Regions from separate parts of the Homo sapiens genome. Here regions 2 and 3 are each reported to be linked to region 1. The links are microRNA targets in miRTarBase. Many come from high-throughput screens and were not tested one by one. Region 1 holds a microRNA gene; each other region holds the end of a gene's coding sequence.

Evidence for each region. The annotated mature microRNA hsa-miR-3605-5p reads UGAGGAUGGAUAGCAAGGAAGCC and lies in region 1 at 1,131-1,153, shown strand. An mRNA with a match to its seed (bases 2 to 7 or 8) in the 3' UTR can be bound and repressed. Matches are read on the target gene's strand: a 7mer-m8 pairs with bases 2 to 8, a 7mer-A1 pairs with bases 2 to 7 and ends in A, and an 8mer does both.
Region 2: the mRNA of ADAM12 is a reported target of hsa-miR-3605-5p. Seed matches in the 3' UTR shown: 7mer-m8 at 1,946-1,952, 7mer-A1 at 3,171-3,177, 8mer at 3,717-3,724 and 7mer-m8 at 3,840-3,846.
Region 3: miRTarBase lists TWIST1 as a target of hsa-miR-3605-5p. Seed matches in the 3' UTR shown: 8mer at 2,993-3,000.

Annotation. Positions count from the first base shown.
Region 1 is chr1:33,329,602-33,333,601 of GRCh38, reverse strand. MIR3605 (microRNA 3605) reads left to right here and starts at 1,110; the gene lies at 1,110-1,209. It overlaps PHC2 (polyhomeotic homolog 2), which reads left to right. Exons shown (of 15, transcript NM_001385109.1): 11 at 1,198-1,327; 12 at 2,140-2,254; 13 at 3,390-3,531. RefSeq lists enhancers at 3,018-3,518, 3,519-4,000.
Region 2 is chr10:126,013,771-126,018,060 of GRCh38, reverse strand. ADAM12 (ADAM metallopeptidase domain 12) reads left to right here. Exons shown (of 23, transcript NM_001288973.2): 23 at 722-4,290. The coding sequence ends at 782. Among named protein-coding and RNA genes, the nearest start is that of FANK1-AS1, 43 kb to the right of the region's middle.
Region 3 is chr7:19,112,929-19,117,164 of GRCh38, forward strand. It overlaps TWIST1 (twist family bHLH transcription factor 1), which reads right to left. Exons shown (of 2, transcript NM_000474.4): 1 at 3,743-4,236; 2 at 2,540-3,203. The coding sequence ends at 3,785. LOC124901597 (a long non-coding RNA gene) reads left to right here. Exons shown (of 3, transcript XR_007060241.1): 3 at 1-317. Among named protein-coding and RNA genes, the nearest start is that of TWIST1, 2.6 kb to the right of the region's middle. RefSeq lists enhancers at 3,715-3,974, 3,998-4,236.

The DNA.
Region 1 (4,000 bases):
GGGACAGAGCCTTGAAAGGGGAGTTAATGAGATTGAGGGGCACTCAGAAAGGTCACGATGGAAGCCTAAGACTAACAAGAAATATCCACGAGCCACGAAGATGGGTTATTGACCAAAGCACCCAGAGCTGCTTCTGTGCAGTGTGCACTGGAGACAGTGGTGCTGCCCTGTGGGTGTGGAGGAGCCCAGAGCCAGCGGCACACCAGCCTCTGTTCTGATGAAAAGTATCTGGCTGTTGGAGAAGACACCTTTCTGGGATACCATCTGCCTTTTCCTCATTCTTTGGTTCCATGAGTGGTTTGATTAGTCTGCAGAAGACGCGGAGCTTGATTAACTGAGATGGGTGAACTGCTCCTGTAAAATGCCAAAAGACACATAGCTTCTTGTCTTCTTTCCCACTGGAGGTTGTCCAAGGCCAGTGGCAAAGAAATCTGCCTGGAACACCTTAGCTAGAAGTGGCTCTCGCTCTGTTACATCCCTTCCCTGTTAGACTGGGCCTCCTAGAGTAACACTAGAAACCACCTGATCTCATGGGGTGGAGGCAGATTGCATAGCACCCCCAGCATTGCCCTAGAGTCGGTGCCACGTGACTGGCTACCAGGCTGCCTAAACACAGGCCACAAAAGGAGATCTAAACGCGTAAATAAGCTGCTCTGGGGTTCTGACAACTGAGAGTTCATTGGCTCTGTGGCCCAGGGTCTGTTTTTTCCTGCTATACTCTGTGGCGGCCTGTACCTCTGGCTTGGGTCAGGCATTGGGGTAAGGTGGAGAACAGTAAAAAAATCAGAAAATGGGTGCTGAGTCTCTCTCTCGTATGTACAGCCTCACACAGACTCCGCTCTGTCCTTGCCTGGAGATGCGTGGGTACTGGGTCTTGGTGCTTGATCTGGCACTGTGGGAAACCTGATCTCAGCCCTTAGACTCTTACTGGAATAGACATTTTCCTAATCTCCTGAGCCATCCGTTGGTCCTGGACAGAAGCCATCCCTGTACTTTGCCCATTAGCATCTTACCTCGTGAGCCAACCAGCAAAATAGGGCCTTGAGCCCAGCACACTTGGATGATGACATGGGGGAAGGTTTGAGGAGGGCTGGCCTCTGTGCCTGGATACTTTATACGTGTAATTGTGATGAGGATGGATAGCAAGGAAGCCGCTCCCACCTGACCCTCACGGCCTCCGTGTTACCTGTCCTCTAGGTGGGACGCTCGTCCCTGCTGGTGGGGAATCTCAAGAAGAAGTATGCACAGGGGTTCCTGCCTGAGAAACTTCCACAGCAGGATCACACCACCACCACTGACTCGGAGATGGAGGAGCCCTATCTGCAAGGTGGGCATCTCAGACCCTGAATCTCTCGGCCTCCCAGCGTGGCTGGAAAGGCAGGCCTCACACACTTCCTCTCTCTGTTTCCCCAGAGGAACCCTGAGCCAGCGAGTCTGTAAACATTTCCCCCAGCACCTCCTCAGCCTCCTTCCCTCAAAAAGAGGGATAGGGGAAATCACGGGAACCATGTGTCCTCTGCTCCCCCAATCCCCCTCCAGCCAACCACAGGATCCCAAGAATGGCTTTTCCTGTGGGAATCATTGGCAAGTTTTAGGCATGACTGTAGGAGTGGCCCCAGGCAAGTCCTGCCCTTCGTCCCTGCCTTGAGACTGGGGCCAGCTCTAGGTCACAGCAGAGACCAGGCAAGGCTGCTCTTTCCACATGAAGCACTGACAGAGCTGCACAGCTGCAGGAGCGTGGGCTCCTGAGGTCTTTTACTGGGTCAGCAGCCAGCTGCATAGATCAAGGTGTGATGATGCCAGCGGAGCAGCTGTGACAGCATCCAGAGTATTTCCTGGGGGCTCCTGCTTTCTTCCACAGTCATTTGATGCTGATTCTTCCCCACCTGTGTTTTGCCTCAGACTCAGACCACGTGGAAGAAAAAAATGTCAAGTCTACAAGGGGCATCCCCAGACACCCTTGAGTGCATTCCAGGGGTGAGAACCACTGGCATTTTCCATGCTAGAATGCTGCTGTATGTCACAGCTGTGGGAGCAGGAGGACCAGGCAGGATGGAGTAGGGAGGCCCCGTGGTGGGGCTGGCCACAGTCCTGCAGGAATTTCTCATTCTCCACCCTACCCATTTCTATACTTTTCAGAATCCAAAGAGGAGGGTGCTCCCCTCAAACTCAAGTGTGAGCTCTGTGGCCGGGTGGACTTTGCCTATAAGTTCAAGCGTTCCAAGCGCTTCTGTTCCATGGCTTGTGCAAAGAGGTGAGTGGCCCCAGCCCCCTCCATTTCCCCAGGACTGCACTTTATGTCCCACCTCCTGCCATTAATAGTCTACCCCAGGAGGTCCATAGGGGTGGCTTCTCCAGTTTCCTAGTTCCTCGACCCACCTGGAAGCAGGATGGCATCCCTAATTCAACAAGCACGAGAAGCCAGAACCCCTAAGAGCAGGTGGGAGAGAGCAGCGGGAGTCCAAGGAAAAGCCGCAGTGCTTTGGCTCGGCTGGCCCTCCTGGGCTCCACTGGCACCCATTCGCCTTTCCTAGCATTGACAGCCCCTGCCTTGTTAGGGTAAGCCTTACCCAGAACCACAGCTATAGTGTTCCCTTGGTGAGCTCTCGCCCAGCATAGATCACTAATGGTCATCATAAAAACCACTGCCATTTCCTGAGAACCTGCTGTGTGCTAGTCACTGTGCCAGTCAATTGATACGATTATCTCATCTTCAAAATAACTCCCAAGACAGGTATTACTATTGTCCCCTTTATACAGGTTAGGAAGCCAAAGTACAAAGGAGTAGTAGTGCCTCAGATAACATAGCTAATAAGCCATGGGCCTGGGGATTTAGGCTTGTCCAATTCTAAAGCCATGTGTGGTCTTTGTACCACAATGGAAGCAACAGCTGACCTTGAAGCCCTGAAATCCCAGAAGAGAAGAAATCTCTAGGTCCCAGACAGAGGTGTTCTGCATGCCAAGCTAGAGTTCAGCTATCTTCAGCCCTCATTCCCCTCAGGCTGTTGGAGCAGCCAGGCCACTCCCCAGCAGGACAGTGGACAGTAGTTTCCCGTCACAGGGTAACATTTATAGTGGAATAAGTCAGGTGTGAGCTTTCGCCCTGGTCCAAGTCCAGGTGTCTCAAACATTTTACAGACATTATCTCATGTTGTAAGACCAGACCTAGAAAGTGAGTGGTATTACCCCCAACTCCAGATAAGGAAACGGAGGATCAGGGCTTAAGTGACTTAAACCCAAAGTCACACAGCTAGTAGTTAGTGATGGAGTTAGGATCTGAACCAATAGATGGACTCAAAATTTGTCAGACAGCTTGGCTGTGCTCATTCTGCCTACGGCCCATAAGCACAATGACTACTGTGACATCCCCTGTTCCCCTGTCCCTGAAGGTACAACGTGGGATGCACCAAACGGGTGGGACTTTTCCACTCAGACCGGAGCAAGCTGCAGAAGGCAGGAGCTGCGACCCACAACCGCCGTCGGGCCAGCAAAGCCAGTCTGCCACCACTTACCAAGGATACCAAGAAGCAGGTAAGAGGCGGGCAGAGCCTGAAGCTCCATCCCCACAGTCCCCACAGCTTCCCTTCCATGGCCCTCGACACCACGGTCCCCTCCAGCTGCCGACTTCAGCGCACTCTGCTGTGCTCTCATTCCTTGTAGACCTGTCCAGTCGAGCCTTCTGCACCCCAGTAGGTCCCTTCATTTAGACCCATGGGTGCTTACAAGGTTCCCTGCCCCCTTCCGTGGCCTTGCCTCAACATCACCCCACCTTCCAGTTTGCCTCCATCCTTGGCTTCTGGGGCCACGGAAATGGGGTCTCCCCTGGGCTGCTCAGGTAACCTCCTGCCTTACGTGGAGGGCTGGGTGAGAAGGCAGCCTCCACCCTTTGTTTTGCCACCTTTTTGCCTCCCTGAACACGCGAGCACAGAGTTCTTGAAGGTCTCTACCAGGAACATGGGTATTCAGTCATTAAATATTTTTTAGCACCAGCTGTATGCCA
Region 2 (4,290 bases), not on the chromosome of region 1:
TTTAATTCCCAACTTCATAAATAGAGAAAAATTGCATAGCATCCTAATTATTTCATTGTGGTTTGCATGTTGATCTTGAAGTTATTTTTCTTGTTCTATTTGAGGAAGAAACACTACTTTACATGAAAACAATGAGGGGAAGCCCTTTTTCTTAAATGCCCTCAAGCTGTGGCCAATCTTACCTCTGGTCAGTTGCTGATTTTGGTCCTGTCCTGCACATTTCATTTTTTAGGGATACTGGGTGCCCACCTTTGCTCCCTGTTCTCTGGAGCTGTGCTGTGGGATGCAGGGACTGCTAGGCATGTTGCGCCTGGTAAAAGTCTTACTGTATTTTGAAGACTTAGTACCCTAAAATGTCAACTATCCATTTTTTTCTATTGATGATGACCTGTTGAAATAATCCTCTAGGTATACTGAGTTAAATGTATTACTAAAATTAATTGCACCTTTCTCTTTACTTTTTTCATGTGGCTACTAGAAAATTTAAAATTTCTTGTGTAGCTCACATTTTTTCTGTGGGACAGTGCTGGTCTAGAGTTGACTTGTGGGTGGGAAGTGCGGCTTTGGAGACAGGTTTCCCACCCCCGTTATGAGGGGCAGTGGTATCTGACACAGAAAACCCTTCAGACTATCAGAATACATCTCCAACCCCAGACCTCTCTATCCTCAGAATCACTTCTCAAGGTCTCTGATCATTTTTTTTTCTCCTCTCTTCATTCAGACCTGCTCCACAATATCCACACCAAGTGCCCAGATCCACCCACACCGCCTATATTAAGTGAGAAGCCGACACCTTTTTTCAACAGTGAAGACAGAAGTTTGCACTATCTTTCAGCTCCAGTTGGAGTTTTTTGTACCAACTTTTAGGATTTTTTTTAATGTTTAAAACATCATTACTATAAGAACTTTGAGCTACTGCCGTCAGTGCTGTGCTGTGCTATGGTGCTCTGTCTACTTGCTCAGGTACTTGTAAATTATTAATTTATGCAGAATGTTGATTACAGTGCAGTGCGCTGTAGTAGGCATTTTTACCATCACTGAGTTTTCCATGGCAGGAAGGCTTGTTGTGCTTTTAGTATTTTAGTGAACTTGAAATATCCTGCTTGATGGGATTCTGGACAGGATGTGTTTGCTTTCTGATCAAGGCCTTATTGGAAAGCAGTCCCCCAACTACCCCCAGCTGTGCTTATGGTACCAGATGCAGCTCAAGAGATCCCAAGTAGAATCTCAGTTGATTTTCTGGATTCCCCATCTCAGGCCAGAGCCAAGGGGCTTCAGGTCCAGGCTGTGTTTGGCTTTCAGGGAGGCCCTGTGCCCCTTGACAACTGGCAGGCAGGCTCCCAGGGACACCTGGGAGAAATCTGGCTTCTGGCCAGGAAGCTTTGGTGAGAACCTGGGTTGCAGACAGGAATCTTAAGGTGTAGCCACACCAGGATAGAGACTGGAACACTAGACAAGCCAGAACTTGACCCTGAGCTGACCAGCCGTGAGCATGTTTGGAAGGGGTCTGTAGTGTCACTCAAGGCGGTGCTTGATAGAAATGCCAAGCACTTCTTTTTCTCGCTGTCCTTTCTAGAGCACTGCCACCAGTAGGTTATTTAGCTTGGGAAAGGTGGTGTTTCTGTAAGAAACCTACTGCCCAGGCACTGCAAACCGCCACCTCCCTATACTGCTTGGAGCTGAGCAAATCACCACAAACTGTAATACAATGATCCTGTATTCAGACAGATGAGGCTTTCCATGGGACCACAACTATTTTCAGATGTGAACCATTAACCAGATCTAGTCAATCAAGTCTGTTTACTGCAAGGTTCAACTTATTAACAATTAGGCAGACTCTTTATGCTTGCAAAAACTACAACCAATGGAATGTGATGTTCATGGGTATAGTTCATGTCTGCTATCATTATTCGTAGATATTGGACAAAGAACCTTCTCTATGGGGCATCCTCTTTTTCCAACTTGGCTGCAGGAATCTTTAAAAGATGCTTTTAACAGAGTCTGAACCTATTTCTTAAACACTTGCAACCTACCTGTTGAGCATCACAGAATGTGATAAGGAAATCAACTTGCTTATCAACTTCCTAAATATTATGAGATGCTGGCTTGGGCAGCATCCCCTTGAACTCTTCACTCTTCAAATGCCTGACTAGGGAGCCATGTTTCACAAGGTCTTTAAAGTGACTAATGGCATGAGAAATACAAAAATACTCAGATAAGGTAAAATGCCATGATGCCTCTGTCTTCTGGACTGGTTTTCACATTAGAAGACAATTGACAACAGTTACATAATTCACTCTGAGTGTTTTATGAGAAAGCCTTCTTTTGGGGGTCAACAGTTTTCCTATGCTTTGAAACAGAAAAATATGTACCAAGAATCTTGGTTTGCCTTCCAGAAAACAAAACTGCATTTCACTTTCCCGGTGTTCCCCACTGTATCTAGGCAACATAGTATTCATGACTATGGATAAACTAAACACGTGACACAAACACACACAAAAGGGAACCCAGCTCTAATACATTCCAACTCGTATAGCATGCATCTGTTTATTCTATAGTTATTAAGTTCTTTAAAATGTAAAGCCATGCTGGAAAATAATACTGCTGAGATACATACAGAATTACTGTAACTGATTACACTTGGTAATTGTACTAAAGCCAAACATATATATACTATTAAAAAGGTTTACAGAATTTTATGGTGCATTACGTGGGCATTGTCTTTTTAGATGCCCAAATCCTTAGATCTGGCATGTTAGCCCTTCCTCCAATTATAAGAGGATATGAACTGAGTTTTTCTTTTGTTGTTTGTTCTTAGCTGTAATTCCTATGCTTCTATTTCAGAGAGCCAGGAGAGTTTGATATTAAAGGAGGTTAAAACTGTGATCTTATGCCATGTCATCAATGGCCACTTAGGGGCCATGGCTGATGACACATTCTTATCTCTACAGTACTAATGTGTTATTATAGAGCCATGCATTTTATTTCTGAATAAGAACATATTTAAACTAATATTCCCTTACAATATGGACAGTATTAATCCTTCCAAGATGCAGTATTTATCAAGTGAAGCATATTTAGCAGCAAATTCCATTTTAACATAACTTAGGAACCAATAACCAGGGTGTTTTGTGGTTGGGGGAGGCACGGGGTGGAGTATTCTTTTTTATATCCTCAAAACAAAAAAAATCAATACTTATATTTCAATGGCAATCTAGTATTTTTTTAAAAGACTGTATAGGCATGAATAATAGAGGTGGTTTGAGTTTTGTAGGGCCATCACCTGGAAAGTCAATGTGACTAGACACAAAGTAGCCCAGAGGCTACTTTTCTTCCTACAGCTTATTATAGTTGTAGGTTCTATGACCTCACTTCATGGGTTCCAGGCAATTCCGCTGAAAGGTTTGTCTCCTGAAATTTTTTAAGTTTGTTTTCCTGACACATGTAATCAGATGTGTAGCAACCGAGGGAAACGAAGCCTAACATTCTCCATTGTGGAAATACACACAGGAGGTTACATTTCACAGCGTGGATTTTTCCAGCTTACACATGTGGGATGACATCACAGAAACCACAAAAGCAGCAAATTAAACTGTAGGAGAGTCAATACTCCTGACGAGTCTCGGGGGGGGGGCATTTTTATGCCTTCTTAACTTTATGAGAATTCTCAGGCTGAACTATAGGCCATTGTTCCCAGGCAAATCAATACATCAATGCATCCTCAAAAAAAAAAAAAAAAAAAAAAAACCGGCTAAAACTGTGTCAAAATGTTCTTAAGGAGCCTATGGTCTCCACGGTGCTAAAAAGAGCCTGGTGCTGGGCCGACTGGCAGGGCTGAGCATCCTCCTGCCCCCTCGCCACTGATGTTTACTAAGCACTCTGAGCCAATGAGACCCCCAGCAGCAGAAAGGGCACAAGGTGGCGCCAGGGCAGCAGGGCCAGATCTTTCTCATGCACCTCGACCTCTTGCAGACTTTCTTCGTGAGATGTACTACTCATTTCAAAACTGCTTTGCAGGGCTCCCCTATGTATTCGGGGGGCCCACGGCACACTCAGGCTGGAGATCCTTCCTCACTGCGCTCAAGATGGCCTCAGCCAGACACCAGTTACCCAGCTGAAAGTCACAATCCCTCCCAGAAGTCTCCCAACACTAGTGCTGACCAGAGGTGGGGCTCTCAGGCTAGGAGTTTCACACACAATGACAGGCTGCTGGGGGACATTGCAGGACCCCTTTTCCTCTCCTCTCCATGCTAGAAGCCAGCCCTAGGCAGCTGCAGTTACTCCCTGTGA
Region 3 (4,236 bases), not on the chromosome of region 1:
TGCAAGAGGCCAAATGTCCCTTAAAAAGCTCCATTATGAATATGAACCTTAAGACCGAAGGGTCAAGAAGCTTGTGCCGTTGTTGAGTGTGGGAAAAAATTTACACACATCGTGCAAGTTTCTGCTCCTTAACATTATTTTATTAATAATACGTTCCACTTTGGGGAGGGGAACCTGTAACTGTGCGTGAATTATCATCTGGACATGTGCTTCTGTGAACAAAAGGGGAAATGTGCATATGGGTAAAAAAATTACTGCTTTCTTATAACTAAAGGCTATCAATCTGACCAACTTATAAATAAAAGTAATCAATAGCACAGTAAAGGAAACATTAAATTTTCTACAATTTACCCAAGACAATTTAATACAATACTTTCCCCTAGCAAATGCATTCTGAAGGAAAAAGATCCCAAGTGAACCAACACATTAATTGGAAAGCCTTAGCTTCTTATTTCCGAAAACAAGAGGTAATTCATTCTATGTGTTCTTTAAATAAGGGTAGGTAGCAAAAATAAAATGAAATAACATAAAATCAAAAGAAGATATAATGGTGGAGGAAAAGAAACAGGTGGCTTCATTTCTATTCTAAAAAAGAATTTCACGATTTATGTCTTGTGTATACAGGGGTAGGGATTAGAATCTGCAAGCTGGAAACTGCATTCCAGTAGTTAATATTTTTCATTGTGCAGTCGCCTCATTCAAAATAAAATTACCACCTTTTTCATTCATTTATTTCTCTGAAAATCTGGGGGGAAACATTACCTTCAGATTAGTATTTAATATTACTATAAATATGGCATTTGCTTTTCTCCAAAGTGTTTCCCCTTATGAAAAAAGTAGAAAAAGCAAAACACATTAAAAAAAGAAAGAAATAAAAGAAAGGCAAATGGAGAGCTACCTTTCTTTGACACATCTAGTTCTTATATCCAGAGTTAAGATAACAATTACCTTCTCAGCAGTCATGGCCAGCTCCATCCTGGTGTACCTTAAGAAATCTGAAATATCAAATAGTCAGACCAAGCTAGTGAACAAGGAGACTCCCCATGAATAATTTAGAAAATGGAGGTGGTTGGATGATACATACAAAAAAGAATTACCAACCTAATGCTTTCCCTCATCCTCCTAGGGCACCCTCCTTACATTTCTAACCTGCCTTACACACAACACACACACACCCCCAACAAATACACCAACACATAATCGCCTTCCCTTTCTGTTATTTGCTAAAGGACTATCAAAATAAAAAAATAATAATACTTCTCCAAGCTTTCACTAACCTTTTAATACAAGTCAATGCTGCAGACTCCTTATTGTAAAATATAGTCTGAAATATTAACAATAAATTCATAATATTCTTATGTCAGCATTCTATGGTGCTGTGTGAAGAAGAAAACAAAAACCTTCAGGCAATAAAATAACTTTGACCTGAGCTAAGCAAAAACGATCTGTTTGGATACATACACTTATTAGTCATTGTTTGAAACAGGCACCAAAATGATTTTCCAGTTTGAAAGCTTCCCCAGTTACACTTGGATGCAGTAAATCGGATGTAAAAGCTAAGAACTGATACAAAATCACTATTTCTAATAATGTTAATTATAAAAGCCAGTATGTTCCTGGCCCACAAATAATCAGAATGAAATAAAAAATCAAACACCCCCGTTTGCCCATTATTGTTTTACTTAACTTCAGATTGTGTGTGTGTGTATGTATGATCTCACCAGGGAAAAATTCTGTGTAATTCTGGATAAAATATAACGCTAATGAACTGACTAGTAACTGCATAGCTGTAGTATTTAAAACTGTGATTATTCCAACTGTGATTATATCCAGTTACCAAGGATACTGAAAGTTCAGGATCTTCATTTTTGTATATTATTCCACAGCCTTATATTCTTTACACATAAAAAAAGAATGATGCTTCCCAAATAGCGTCAATATAGCGATATATTAACTTTTCTTTTTAGCAAACATGACACTAAACGTCATATTCATTCATGAGAGAAGAGTTAAGCAAATTACAAATGGAATTTTCTCTTTTCTGCTGATTTACACTTTATTTTCTATGCATTTCTGGTCATTTCTATATGTGTATAGATAATTTTCATAACACTATATATGTTTTCACTGAAAAGAACCTGTTATTTAGGAATCTTCACAAAGAGTGAAGAGCATGACAAAAAGTACATAATAAGAGAATAGTGCAGGTTTTATACTCCTTATTTGCATTTAACTGTTTTAACAACTATCACCTCAAAATAAAAAGGAGGTGAATAGCAAATTTGTTAAGTTTTTGCTGTTTGGAGACAGTAAGAGATGAAGAGATGCTACTAAGCCCTCTGAATACCAAACTGGAATAATAATAAAGCTGTCTTTTAAAATAACATGCTTGTGCCTGTCAGTAGCTGCTTTATTTGAGTTTTTCATTGCTTTGTTTATATTAGTGCCCCCTCCCTCCTGGGTGCCTCTAGAATTAAACAAGCAGGTATTTACCACCAACTTAATCTTTAGTTTTAAAAATATAGACCAAACTCTAAGGTTCTCTAAATTTTTTATATTTATTTATTGCAGAAAAATATACAAAGATATTTACAAAACAATCATAAAAATATGAATGCATTTAGACACCGGATCTATTTGCATTTTACCATGGGTCCTCAATAAATAAATAGAATGTTGTTTTTTGTATTTTAAGTTTTTTTTTGTTTTTCCCCTCAGAGGAAGGATGAAAAAAAGAATTAACTGACTATGGTTTTGCAGGCCAGTTTGATCCCAGTATTTTTATTTCTAAAGGTGTTCTTATAGTTCCTCTGATTGTTACCATTTTAAAATAGAGAAAGTCCATAGTGATGCCTTTCCTTTCAGTGGCTGATTGGCACGACCTCTTGAGAATGCATGCATGAAAAAAATAAAAATAAAAACATTCTTCGTCAAAAAAAAAAAAAAAAAAAACACAAACAACTGTTCAGACTTCTATCAGAATGCAGAGGTGTGAGGATGGTGCCGCTGCCCGTCTGGGAATCACTGTCCACGGGCCTGTCTCGCTTTCTCTTTTAAAAGTGCGCCCCACGCCCTGTTTCTTTGAATTTGGATTTTGCTCTTCTAATTTCCAAGAAAATCTTTGGCATATATTTTTATTTTTAGTTATCCAGCTCCAGAGTCTCTAGACTGTCCATTTTCTCCTTCTCTGGAAACAATGACATCTGCAAAAACCCAGAGGGGGGGGGGGGAGTCGGTTATTGTTTAGGTCTCTGCGGCTGTTTTCTAAGACTAGTGAGCACTGTTCTTATCACCACCACTGAGAAATTAAGCTGAACAACCTGGAAGGATTTCAGCCCAAGGGCAAGAGGAAGTGGGTGGGTGGAAAGGAGGAGGAGGTGGAATTTGTTTTAAAACATTTGTTTTAAGGAGAACAAAAATTGAAAGCCGAAAGAAAGGGTGGCGCTGACAAAACGGTCCTTACCCGTGACCCTGGGTGTCTCTGTCTCCCCTCCTGTCACGCACACTCACGCGCACACACACCCCTCACCAGGGCGCATCCCCCTGGAGACTGCTCTCCCTAGCGGGGTCAGACCGGCCTTCCGGGGACGCTGGGGGCGCGAGGCAACGGTGCCAAGTGAGGTGGGAAGGCTGAGCGGAGAGTGGGAGAGGGGAGGAAATCGAGGTGGACTGGGAACCGCGGCCTGGCCGGCCTGCCGTCTGCCACCTGAGAGGCGAAGGGGTGCAGCGGCGCGGTCCTTACCTAGGTCTCCGGCCCTGCTGAGGGGGTGGGGGGCTCCGCCTGCTAGTGGGACGCGGACATGGACCAGGCCCCCTCCATCCTCCAGACCGAGAAGGCGTAGCTGAGCCGCTCGTGAGCCACATAGCTGCAGCTTGCCATCTTGGAGTCCAGCTCGTCGCTCTGGAGGACCTGGTAGAGGAAGTCGATGTACCTGGCCGCCAGCTTGAGGGTCTGAATCTTGCTCAGCTTGTCCGAGGGCAGCGTGGGGATGATCTTCCGCAGCGCGGCGAACGCCTCGTTCAGCGACTGGGTGCGCTGGCGCTCCCGCACGTTGGCCATGACCCGCTGCGTCTGCAGCTCCTCGTAAGACTGCGGACTCCCGCCGCCGCTGCTGCTGCCGCCGCCGCCGCCCGCGCCGCCGCCGCCGCCACAGCCCGCAGACTTCTTGCCGCGCTTGCCCTGGGCCGGGCTGCCCGGCTCGTCGCCGCCTCCGACGCCCCCACCCGCGGCTCCGC